2 separate regions of the Homo sapiens genome follow, and region 2 is linked to region 1. The links come from fine-mapping of genetic effects on gene expression. A gene starts in region 1. The other region holds a variant in brackets. All regions are shown on one strand. Distances are from middle to middle. Region 1 holds the start of HDGFL2 (HDGF like 2). Region 2 overlaps HDGFL2 (HDGF like 2).

Region 1 (5,359 bases):
GTGATCCACCTGCCTCGGCCTCCCAAAGTGCTGGGATTACACGCATAAGCCGCGGCACCTGGCCTATGTTTAATTTTTATTTTATTTATTTATTTTTTTGAGACGAAGTCTAACTCTGTTGCCCAAGCTGCAGTGCAGTGGCGCAATCTCGGCTCACTGCAACCGCCCCCTCCGGGTTCAAGCGATTCTCCCTGCCTCAGTCTCCTGAGTAGCTGGGACTACAGGCACACACCATCATGCCCAGCTAATTTTTGTTTTTCAGTAGACATGGGGTTTCACTATGTTGGCTGCCCTGGTCTCAAACTCCTGACTTCGTGATCTGCCCACCTCAGCCTCCCAAAGTGCTGGGATTACAGGCGTGAGCCACCGCGCCCGGCCTATTGTATTTTTTTGAAACAGGGTCTAGCTCTGTTGCCCAGGATGGAGTGCAGTGGTGCAATCTCAGCTCACTGCAACCATTGCCTCCCTGGGCTCGATCCTCATTCCTCAGCCTCCTGAGTAGCTCAGAGTAGAAGTGTGCGGATCATGCCCAACTGATTTTTATATTTTTTGTAGAGATGGGGTTTAACCATGTTGCTCAGGCTGGTCTCGAACTCCTGGGCTCAAGCGAATTTTCCACCTCAGTCGTGCTGGGATTACTGGTGTGAGATGCCATGCCAGGCCTTACGTTTCAGTTTTAAAGAAATGGTCTTTGTTGATCCATATTTCACATGCATAGGGATGTTTTTTGAGAATAAAATACTCTCTTTGTATCCTCTGATCAGATCCCCCCAATAGTTTCCCAAGAAGTTAAAATAAAACCCAAACTTCTCATTTATGTTTGTAATGTATTGTGATAGGTCCTCTACGGACCCCTCCAGCCCTCCAGCTTTATCTGTTTCCCCTACTCACACACAGTCATCCTAGGATCAGATGGGTTTTTTGTTGTTGCTGTTGTTGTTCTTGTTTTTGCTTGTTTGCTTTTTCTTTTCTTTTCTTTTTTTTTTTGAATCAAAGTCTCGCTCTGTCACCCAGGCTGGAGTGCAGTGGCATGATCTTGGCTCACTGCAACCTCCGCTTCCCGGGTTCAAGTGATTCTCGTGCCTCAGCCTCCCGAGTAGCTGGAATTACAGGCGCCTGCCACCACGCCTGGCTAATTTTTTGTATTTTTAGTAGAGATGCGGTTTCACCATGTTGGCCAGGGTGGTCTCAAACTCCTGACTTCAAGTGATCTACCCGCCTCGGCCTCTCAAAGTGTTGGGATTACAGGCGTGAGCCACCGCGCCCGGTCTCGTTTGTTTTTTGCAACGGAGTCTCGCTCTGTCACCCAGGTTGTAGTGTAACGGCGTGATCTCGGCTCACTGCACCCTCCGCCTCCCAGGTTCAAGTGATTATCCTGCCTCAGCCTCCCAAGTAGCTAGGAGTATAGGCGCCCACCACCACGCCCGGCTAATTTTTGTATTTTTTCTAGAGATGGGATTTCACCATGTTGGCCAGGCTGGTCTCGTACTCCTGACCTTAAGTGAGGATCAGACGCTTGTTTTTGCTCTTCCCTCTGCTCCTCATGCCCTCCCAGGGCTCGCCTCACTATCATGTCCAACTTCTATTCATTCTCCCAGTGTCTGGTTAAACTCACTTCATCCAGTAACCCTCTGTGATCCCCCAGGAGAGAAGAAGTCGTCTCCATTATTCAGCTTTTTTTCCTCAAGCACCCTGGTTCATTTTAGTTCTTACCATGGATCCTAATTACAAAAAACAAAACAAAACACAGCAACATCAACAAATTTTAAAACTTAACATTTCTTGGCCCTGTTATACTTGATTCCTGGAAGGTAGAGTTTTGTTTTTTGTTTTTGTTTTTTTTTTGAGACAGAGTCTCGCGCTGTCGCCCAGGCTGGAGTGCAGTGGCACGATCTCGGCTCACTGCAAGCTCCGCCTCCCGGGGTCAGGCCATTCTCCTGCCTCAGCCTCCCTAGTAGCTGGGACTACAGGCGCCTGCCACCACGCCTAGCTATTTTTTTTGTATTTTTAGTCGAGACGGGGTTTCACTATGTTAGCCAGGATGGTCTCGATCTCCTGACCTCGTGATCCACCCACCTCGGCCTCCCAAAGTGCTGGGATTACAGGCGTGAGCCACCACGCCCTGCCGGAAGGTAGAGTTATAGCTTTTTTTTTTCTGCTCTGTCACCCAGTCTGGAGTGCAGTGGCGCGATCTCGGCTTACTGCAACCCCCCGCTCCTGGGTTCGAGTGATTCTCCTGCCTCAGCTTCCTGAGTAGCTGGTATAGGTGCGTGCCACCACGCCCAGCTAATTTTTGTATTTTTAGTAGAGACGGGGTTTCACCATGTTGGCCAGGCTTGGTCTCAAACTCCTGACCTCGTGATCCGCCCGCTTCGTCCTCTCAAAGTGCCGGGGTTACAGCCGTGAGCCATCGCGTCCGGCCGAGTTATAGCTTCTAATACTTCCTGTATTTCCTGTTGCCGGGCTCAGTCTAGAGCAGGGTCCTCACAATCATTATGGGCCCCATCTTCCAAGTGCAGAGAGCGAAGCCCAGGACAATCAAGTGACTCGGCCCCACGGTATTCAGTACATTTTTCTTGAATGAATGAATAGGTCTGTGTGGCGTTTTGGGGCCCTGGCATATAGTAGGTACTCAGTTAAGTTTTTAACTAAGTGAAGAAATAACTATTTTGTGCATTTTGTGGCTGTTTATACTAAGAGCTCCCCCGGAGCCTGCCCCTTCCTCTAAGTCCCGCCTCCTCGAGCTGGCAATCGCCCGTCCCTGTTTTATGTTGTATCGCTCTTCTTTCGATAGCCAATGGCCGACGTTCCCGCTGAAGCCCCGCCTCTTGTGATGGCCAATGCCTGCTCCCTACCTTGAGGCGCTTCTCTTGTGGTATCCAATGGCTTGCATATCTACTTTAAGCCTCTCCTCCTGAGCGGGAGAGGCTGTCAATGACCCGCCCATTGCGTTAAGTGATTGGCCTTCTTTTCTGCGGTATCCAATGTTCTGCCCTCCTTATATCCCCTTCTCTTGTGGAGGTCTATGTCCTGCCTCTTTCCCTTAAGCTCCACCCCTTCACTCCCTTAGAGCGTCTGTTCGTCTCCTCCCACCTTTCCCTTTCACCTCCCATAACCTCCCATTAGAGTCTCTGGGTTACGCCCCTTGGGTCTGTCCGTTATCCAATCCCGTTAACTGCTGTGCTCCAACCTCTGTTCTTATTGGTCGCCTCCCTTCTCTGTCCCCTGCACGTGGTCCTGATCGACGGCTTTGCCGGCCCGTGACGGCCGGAGGGCTGAACTTCCGTTGGCGCAACGCCCAATAAGCGCGCGTCGGCAGGCTGCCCAGACAGCCTCCCCCGCCCCCTCGGCGTCCCGCTCCCGCCCCCGGCTTCGCCTCCCGCTGCCGCCGCCGCCGCCGCCGCAGCCGCTACCGCCGCTGCAGCCGCTTTCCGCGGCCTGGGCCTCTCGCCGTCAGCATGCCACACGCCTTCAAGCCCGGGGACTTGGTGTTCGCTAAGATGAAGGGCTACCCTCACTGGCCTGCCAGGGTGAGGCCGCGCGGGAGATGGGGCCGGTGGGGGGGGGGGGGGGGGCAGCGGGGGCCCCGGGCCGGAGGCGGGCACTGGAGGGCCGGGGTTGTCCTGGGCCTGAAGGAGCTGCGCCCCGGGGGTCTGGGGTTCATGGGGTCTGGGGGTGTCCGAGACCCGCAGCGGCCCCGCCCTGGGGGTCTGGGGGTCCTGGGCCGCAGGGAGCTGCGCCCTAGGGGTCTGGGGTTGTCCGGGGCCTGCCGGAGCCGCGCCCCGGGGTCTAGGGATCCTGGGCCTCAGGGAGCCCCGCCCTCGGGGCCTGGGGGTCCTGGGCTGCAGGGAGCCGCGTTCTTGTGGTCTGGTGGTGTTCGGATCCTGCAGGACCCGCCGTCTGGGCCTGCAGGAGCCCCTCCCGGGGTCTGGGGGTCCTCGGCCTCAGGGAGCTGCGTCCTGGGGTTCTGGGGGTGTCCAAGCCCTGCAGGAGCCGCGCCCCGGGGTCTGGGGGCCCTGGGCCTCAGGGGGCCGCGCCTAGGGGTTCTGAGGGTGTCTGCGGCCTGAGAGACTCTCGCCCTTGGTGTATGAGGGTTTTGGGGCTCAGAGAGTCGCTCCCTGGGAGTCTGGGGGTATCCTGGGCCCGAGGGAGTCGCACCTTGGGGGTTTGGGGGTGTTTGGGGCCTGAAAGAGCCGCGCGCCGACGGTCTGGGGGTCCCGGGCCCGAGGAAGCGGTGCCCTGGGGGTCTGGGGCCTGATAAATTCTCACTCTGGGGGAATGGCGGTCCTGGACCTGAGGGAGCTGCGCCGTGGGGATCTGGGGGGTGTCCAGGGCCTGAAGGAGCTGCGGCGCCAATGGTCTGGGGGTCCTGGGCCTGAGGAAGCTGCGCTCTGGGGGTCTGGGGCTTCTGTGCCTGAGGGAGCTGCACCATGGGGATCTGGGGTTGCCCTGGCCCAGAGGGAGCCACGCCTCGTGTGTCTGGGGGTGTCCAGGGTGCCTCAGGGAGCCGTGCGCAGGGTGTCTGGGAGGGTCTGGGACCTGAGGGACCCTCACCTGAGGGCCTGGGGATCCCAGGCCTGAGGGCTCAAGGTTCAAGTTTGAGCAGAACTGCGGAACTTGAGATTTGGGGTCAGATATGGGGGCTGAAGCACTCCCTTGTGGGTCCTGGAGAAGCCCAGTTTTGAGGGGCTGGGGGGCCGAGGGCCATGTGCTAGGGGTCCAGGGTTGGAGGAGGCAGTCAGGGGGGAAGGTTGAGGGTCAAGGCTAAGGGAAGCTGGGACCTCTGAGTGAGGGGCTGGGGGTGGGGGAATGGGGCTCGGGGCTCTGTTCACGGGGTCACTGGGACTCGGGGAACTGGACCTTAGAATGAAGTTGGCATCGGGACTGTTGGGGGACCCTGGGGATTGGTCCCCTGTGGGGAGGAGGATGTAGAAGCTGGTTTTGGAGGGACTTGAGGGTGGGGTGGTCCAACCCCAATGCTTGAAATGGAGACAGGCCCGGGCCCAGGGAGTGGGAGCGCTTCTGAGGGAAGGGGGCTGGCCGAGGGGACCTTGGATGCCCCTTTGGTGGAAGCTGGGGTCCCGACGACCTGGATAGTCCCAGGTGTCCTGGCCTGAAGGATATTCCGCACCTTGGAGTCCCAGGTGTGGAGGGGGTGAGTTCCAGGCCCTGAGAGGTACAGGCCAGCGGGAAGCAGGGACCCCAGGCTATTGTCATCCCCAGGTCTTAGGGCTGAGTCTCCCAGGGCTGAGGTTGGTGGAATTTGCCGGGCAGGACTGAGGAATTTGGCACTGGGGGTGGAAGGCTGGGGCAGCAGGGAGGGGCTGTGGAGGGGGACACCAAACGGTGCTCTGGACCA
Region 2 (5,322 bases), 31 kb after region 1:
TCTCCGTGCAGACCCGGCTTTAATCCCTGGGGCAGCCAGTGAGGGGCATTCAGGTCCTACCGTGTGCCAGGCAGCCAGCATGCAGGTAACTTGGGGCTCACGCCAGAGGGGTGACGGGGACAGTGCATGACAGCACACGCCTCCACCGTCTCCCACCCTGGGACGCCCAGAGAGGGGGGTGGCTCTGTGCAGCGGGGGCAAAGAGTGGGGGCATTGTTCAGAGAGGCAGTCGGTGGAGGCTCGGGGGCGGAGGCCTCAGGTGCCCTTGCTTGCCTGGTGGGCCGACAGGAGATGAGGTGTGACCCTCGGGGCTGCTGGCTGTGGGGCTACTGGGCTGACATGGCCCCATTACAGGTGCTCAGAGCAGCCCTTTGGAGATGGGATGGGCGAGCTTGGGATGGGGCTTTGCGGCCCAGGGGGCAGCCGAAGGCTAGTGTCTTTTTTTTCTTTTTTCTTTTTTTTCTGAGATGGGGTCTCGCTCTGTCCCCCAGGCTGGAGTGCAGTGGTACAATCACAGCTCACTGCAACCTTGACTTCCTGGGCGCAAGCCATCCTCCACCTCAGCCTCCTGAGGAGCTGGGATTGTAGGCCTACACCACTATGCCCTGCTAATTTTTTTTTTTTTTTTTTTTTTTTTTGAGACGGAGTCTTGCTCTGTCCCCCAGGCTGGAGTGCAGTAGCGTGATCTTGGCTCACTGCAAGCTCCGCCTCCTGGGTTCACGCCATTCTCCTGCCTCAGCCTCCCGAGGAGCTGGGACTACAGGCACCCAACACCACACCAGGCTAATATTTTGTATTTTTTAGTAGAGATGGGGTTTCACCGTGTTATCCAGGATGGTGTCAATCTCTGGACCTCATGATCCGCCCTCCTCGGCCTCCCAAAGTGCTGGGATTACAGGCGTGAGCCACTGCGCCCTGCCAGGACGTGCTAATTTTTGTATTTTTTGTAGAGACAGGGTTGCTGGCATGTTACTCAGGCTGGTCTTGAACTCCTGGGCTCAAGTGAGCCTCACGTCTCGGCCTCCCACGTGCTGGGATTGTGAGCCCCCGTGCCCGACCTTGTCTTCCTTTGTCTTTCCCAGGCTGCTGTGGGCTTTTCTCAGGGCTGCCCACGTTCCCTCATTTCTTGGGCCCCCAGTTCTGCAGGCCAGTGTGGCTCGGGCTGGGGCTGGCTGCAGCATCCCATGTCAGGAGCTTGCAGACTGGACAGCAGGTGCTGGGGTCCAGGTGGATGGGCATGTGTCACCCACGGCGCTCAGCTTGGCCCCTGGTCCAGTCCTTGACAGGCAAGGGTTCTGGGGTGCCCAGCTGGAGCCCAGCAGTGTCCTGTGACCCCTCTGTCCCACCCAGATCTCTCAGCCCCAGTGAATGGCGAGGCCACATCACAGAAGGGGGAGAGCGCAGAGGACAAGGAGCACGAGGAGGGTCGGGACTCGGAGGAGGGGCCAAGGTGTGGCTCCTCTGAAGACCTGCACGAGTGAGTGTCCCGGGCCGTGGGGTTTGGACTCCTGAGCGGCAGCGGTGTGACGCGCACCCTGGGTCCGAGCCGCTCCTCCTGTGCCAGTCCCTCTGGGATGGGTCCCAGGGATGTCGTCCTTACTCGGGCCTCCCACCTTCACAGCTGACCCCAGGGCCCCGCTGGCTGGCACTTCCGGCGGCCCCTACAGAGAGGCAGCTCCAGGGCTTTGAGCTGCCTGCCCCTGGCCTCCTGGGAAGGTGGCTTCTTGCCGAGCCTCCAGGGTGGCCCAGGTAGGTAGGCCCCGAGCACGGGCACCCGGCTATCTGACGGTGCCTGTGCCCATCACTGTGGGCTGCTGTCTGGTACAAGGCTCAGTGGAGTCACTCACTTACCCAGCAGCTGCCTTGTGCTATGCCTGGCTGGCGCCAGCGTGGGGACCCTGGAGATGGTTGTGGTCTCTAGTGGCAGAAGACAGGCAGATAGGAGGGCGGCACTCGAGCCTCAGGTGCCACAACGGGGGTACACTCCTCGGTGCCCATCCCACCCAACCGCCCTACAGGCAGGGCAGGGGCGGGAGGGCATCCTCACACCGCCTTTGCTGTTCCCACCAGCAGCGTACGGGAGGGTCCCGACCTGGACAGGCCTGGGAGCGACCGGCAGGAGCGCGAGAGGGCACGGGGGGACTCGGAGGCCCTGGACGAGGAGAGCTGAGCCGCGGGCAGCCAGGCCCAGCCCCCGCCCGAGCTCAGGCTGCCCCTCTCCTTCCCCGGCTCGCAGGAGAGCAGAGCAGAGAACTGTGGGGAACGCTGTGCTGTTTGTATTTGTTCCCTTGGGTTTTTTTTTCCTGCCTAATTTCTGTGATTTCCAACCAACATGAAATGACTATAAA[T/C]GGTTTTTTAATGAAAAAAGAAATCACTTTTATTGGCTTGGTTTTCTAGCATTGCTGGTGCAGTGGGGGCCTGAGCTGGGGCGCAGGCGGCAGTGTCACTGGGCCCGTTTGGGACTGGGTTGAGCCATCAGGCCACCGTGAGAAGCGACTAAAAGGCACTCTGGGCCCAGCCCAACCCTGAAAGGCCAGTGGCAGGAGAGCTGGGCGGGAGCAAGCTCTTCCCAGGAGACAAGAGGGACAAACCAGGGCATCTAAGCTGTGCTGCCTGCGCCCTGCCCCGCACCCACGAGGCTGGGGGGTTTGATGCTTCCTGCATCTGGCAGCCCAGGGTCCAGGCAGGTGAGCAGGTCCGATGTGGGGAGGACGAGGGTCCGCGAGGCTAGGCTGGGAGGGTGGAGACCAGGCCTTCCCTGAGAGCCGCTGCTAGCCGACAGTGGTCTCCAGCGTTCAGGGAGCATGGGCCTCAGGGGCCAGCCTCGACTCACCCCAGCTGTGTCACCCACACACCGTGTGACTTTGGACAGGTTCCCCTCCCACTCGGGGCTTCTCTTTCCTCCTCTGCATAAGGGGCTGTCACGTGGGCACGGTCCCAAGCAAGTCACCCCGTGCTCCGAAGTTGCTCATTCCACAGTGGCGTCTCGTGTTTGTCGTCCTGCCCAGCGTAGCCGAGTTGCCTCCGTCCCAGTAAGAATTAGGCTGTGGTGTGGCGGGAAGGGACTTCCTGAGCTGCGGCCCCATGCTTGGTTGGCTGGACGTGAGCTGCAGTCACTGTGCCTGATTTCTGCAAATGGCTGTGTCTGGCATCCTAGCCTCCGATGGCCATGGGTGTCGGGCTGAGGAGAAGGCTTGGGAAGGCTCCTGACCCGTCCCCTCTCACGGCCCGTCACCTGAGGCAGTCCTTGCCGTGCCAGCTTCCCCGGTTCAGAGCTGAGCTGAATGCCCCGGCCCCTCACGGCCCCTGGTGCACACGGTGACCCCTGGGGCCCCTCCACCCTTCCTCCCCCTGGGTCTGGGGTTCCTGGGCTCGTGTCCTAGGAGAGCATGGAAAGGGGACGACAAGGTTCTCTTACCGGGTGAGTGGGGATATGGCTTCCTGGGGAGGCCGGGCTGAACGGCTCCTCCCCGCTGGACTGAGCGCAGCCACGGCACGTCTCACACCCGACCTGAGCCTGCCAGCCTCCACGACCTGGGCTAGCCTGAGAGCACGGGGCCCGGCGGCCGGGTCCGCCACCACCAGTGTCTCTGATGCCTGCAGCCTCCCCAGCCCCGCTTCCTCTGCAGCCCGGCGCTTGGGTGGGCCTGAGGACCCAGGGGGAGTGTGCGGCGGAGGAAGGGCTGTGCCATAGGCACGCAGCCTCTGTGGCTGTTCCCAGCCCTGTCTGATCCCTCCATAGGGCACAGTTCCCTGCGGGGAAGTCCTTTGTCTGTGTTCTCCAGGGGCAGCTGCTGGGCCCAGCCTCCCCAGGGGCCTCAGAGCCCCAGGTGCCTGGGGCAGGCCTGTGGTGGGCAGCTGGAGGCAGCAGCAGCCTGTTTGCTTGTTTTTTGCACCCCCCACCCCCTGCAAACTGCTCAGTCTCAAGCCAGGCTGGTGCAAAGCCCCAGCTGTGGCTGCTGTGGCTCCTGGCAGCTTTGTCCCCACCGTGAGGCCACCCCGGGGGTCAGCAAAGGCAGTAGCAGCCTGCCTTGGGATGATGATGGCAGTGTCGCTTTTTCTAGTACTTTCTACTATGAGGGAATGTGGTTCTTAAGACCCTCAAGGTGTGTGTGCTAAGGCCGGAGACCCACTTTCAGCATGAGAACGGAGCTGCCCGGAGCCTGGGATGCCACAGCACTGCCTGCACCGCTGATAGCTGGGGGCCCGTGCTGCAGGACTGGAAGAGCCCTGCTAGATATAAAAGGGTTGCTAGCGGGGCAAACAGATGCCCTTCCAGGCTGGGCACGCTGCTTTTTCTCTTTCCTAATTGCAGTGCTTGCTTGGGGACTTCAAGGGAAGGCTCTTGGCTGGTGGTCTGAGTGACCCCAGGCTCCGAGAGGGGCAGGCAGCGCTGGGGAGGAGGTGGGAGATGCAGGCAGGCCCGGAGCAGGGCGTGGGGTGGCTCAGTTAAGAAGGTCACTGCCTCCGCAGCCCCTCGGCGCTCAGCCAGCTGCAGCCCCAAAGGTCTAGGGCTTTAGGGAACCGATCCAGGTTTGGGGGCGGGGAGAAAGTTCTGAGGCAGCTCCTCCCTGGACAGAGCAGGGCGACCCCGCGCCGGGCCTGCAGGCTCCTACAGCTACTGCCCGCCAGCGGGCAAGGCGAAGGGCCCTACCAGCCAGCTGAGCGGGGGATTGTGCTGTAGGCCCTCCAGCAGCTGCTCTAACCCCTGCCAAGCCTGGTGCACACCCTCGCGGCTCTGCACCAGCCGCTCTGCGGGCAGCTCCTCTACAGAGCCAGCTGAGGCCACGATGCCATAGAGCTCACAGAGGCTGTGCCGCGCCCGCCCCACTGGCTGCTGGAGCTCGGCGGGCAGGCCCTGGAGGCTGGAGACCAGGCCACTGTAGGCCGTGTGCAGCTGCCGGAGAAGGCCGCAGACCCTGGACAGAACCCCGGCATCCCGCTCCTGTGGGAGGAAGGCGCAAGGTGAGTGGAGACCCATGGGCGGGGTGGGGGGACCCTAGCCCTGTGCCAGACCCACCTCCTGGACAGCAGCGTCCTCCGCACTGGCACCTGAGCCCTGGTCCAGACGTGGCTGCCCTTCTGGAGCCTGCTGGGCCTTTTCAATCTGGAGAGAGAGTACAGTGGGGAAATGATGGCTTCTTGGCAAATGACCTTTCACAACCCCCACCTCCCCCTCCCCCAGGGACCTGGGCACATTCACAGTCCTGGGAGAAAGGCCACGAGTTCCAAGTCAGTTGTACCACAGTGGGCGTGTTGTCTTGCAGAAAGAGGCAATAGTTCAAACTTCCCCATGAGGTCATCAGGGAGTGCACGTAACAC

What was found. PIP is the estimated chance that this variant, and not a neighbour inherited with it, causes the effect. A credible set is the group of variants that fine-mapping cannot tell apart.
Region 2: its variant is the best candidate, but not a certain one, in a credible set for the expression of HDGFL2 in skeletal muscle (GTEx, PIP 0.84).

The regions. Positions count from the first base shown.
Region 1 is chr19:4,468,893-4,474,251 of GRCh38, forward strand. HDGFL2 (HDGF like 2) reads left to right here and starts at 3,405. Exons shown (of 16, transcript NM_001001520.3): 1 at 3,405-3,530. The coding sequence starts at 3,459. RefSeq lists enhancers at 2,051-2,220, 2,481-2,830, 5,320-5,359 and silencers at 3,331-3,510, 3,541-3,600.
Region 2 is chr19:4,499,841-4,505,162 of GRCh38, forward strand. HDGFL2 (HDGF like 2) reads left to right here. Exons shown (of 16, transcript NM_001001520.3): 15 at 1,351-1,477; 16 at 2,071-2,367. The coding sequence ends at 2,170. It overlaps PLIN4 (perilipin 4), which reads right to left. Exons shown (of 8, transcript NM_001367868.2): 7 at 5,021-5,107; 8 at 2,352-4,945. The coding sequence ends at 4,619. Among named protein-coding and RNA genes, the nearest start is that of PLIN4, 16 kb to the right of the region's middle. The variant T/C (reference allele first, on the strand shown) is at 2,349.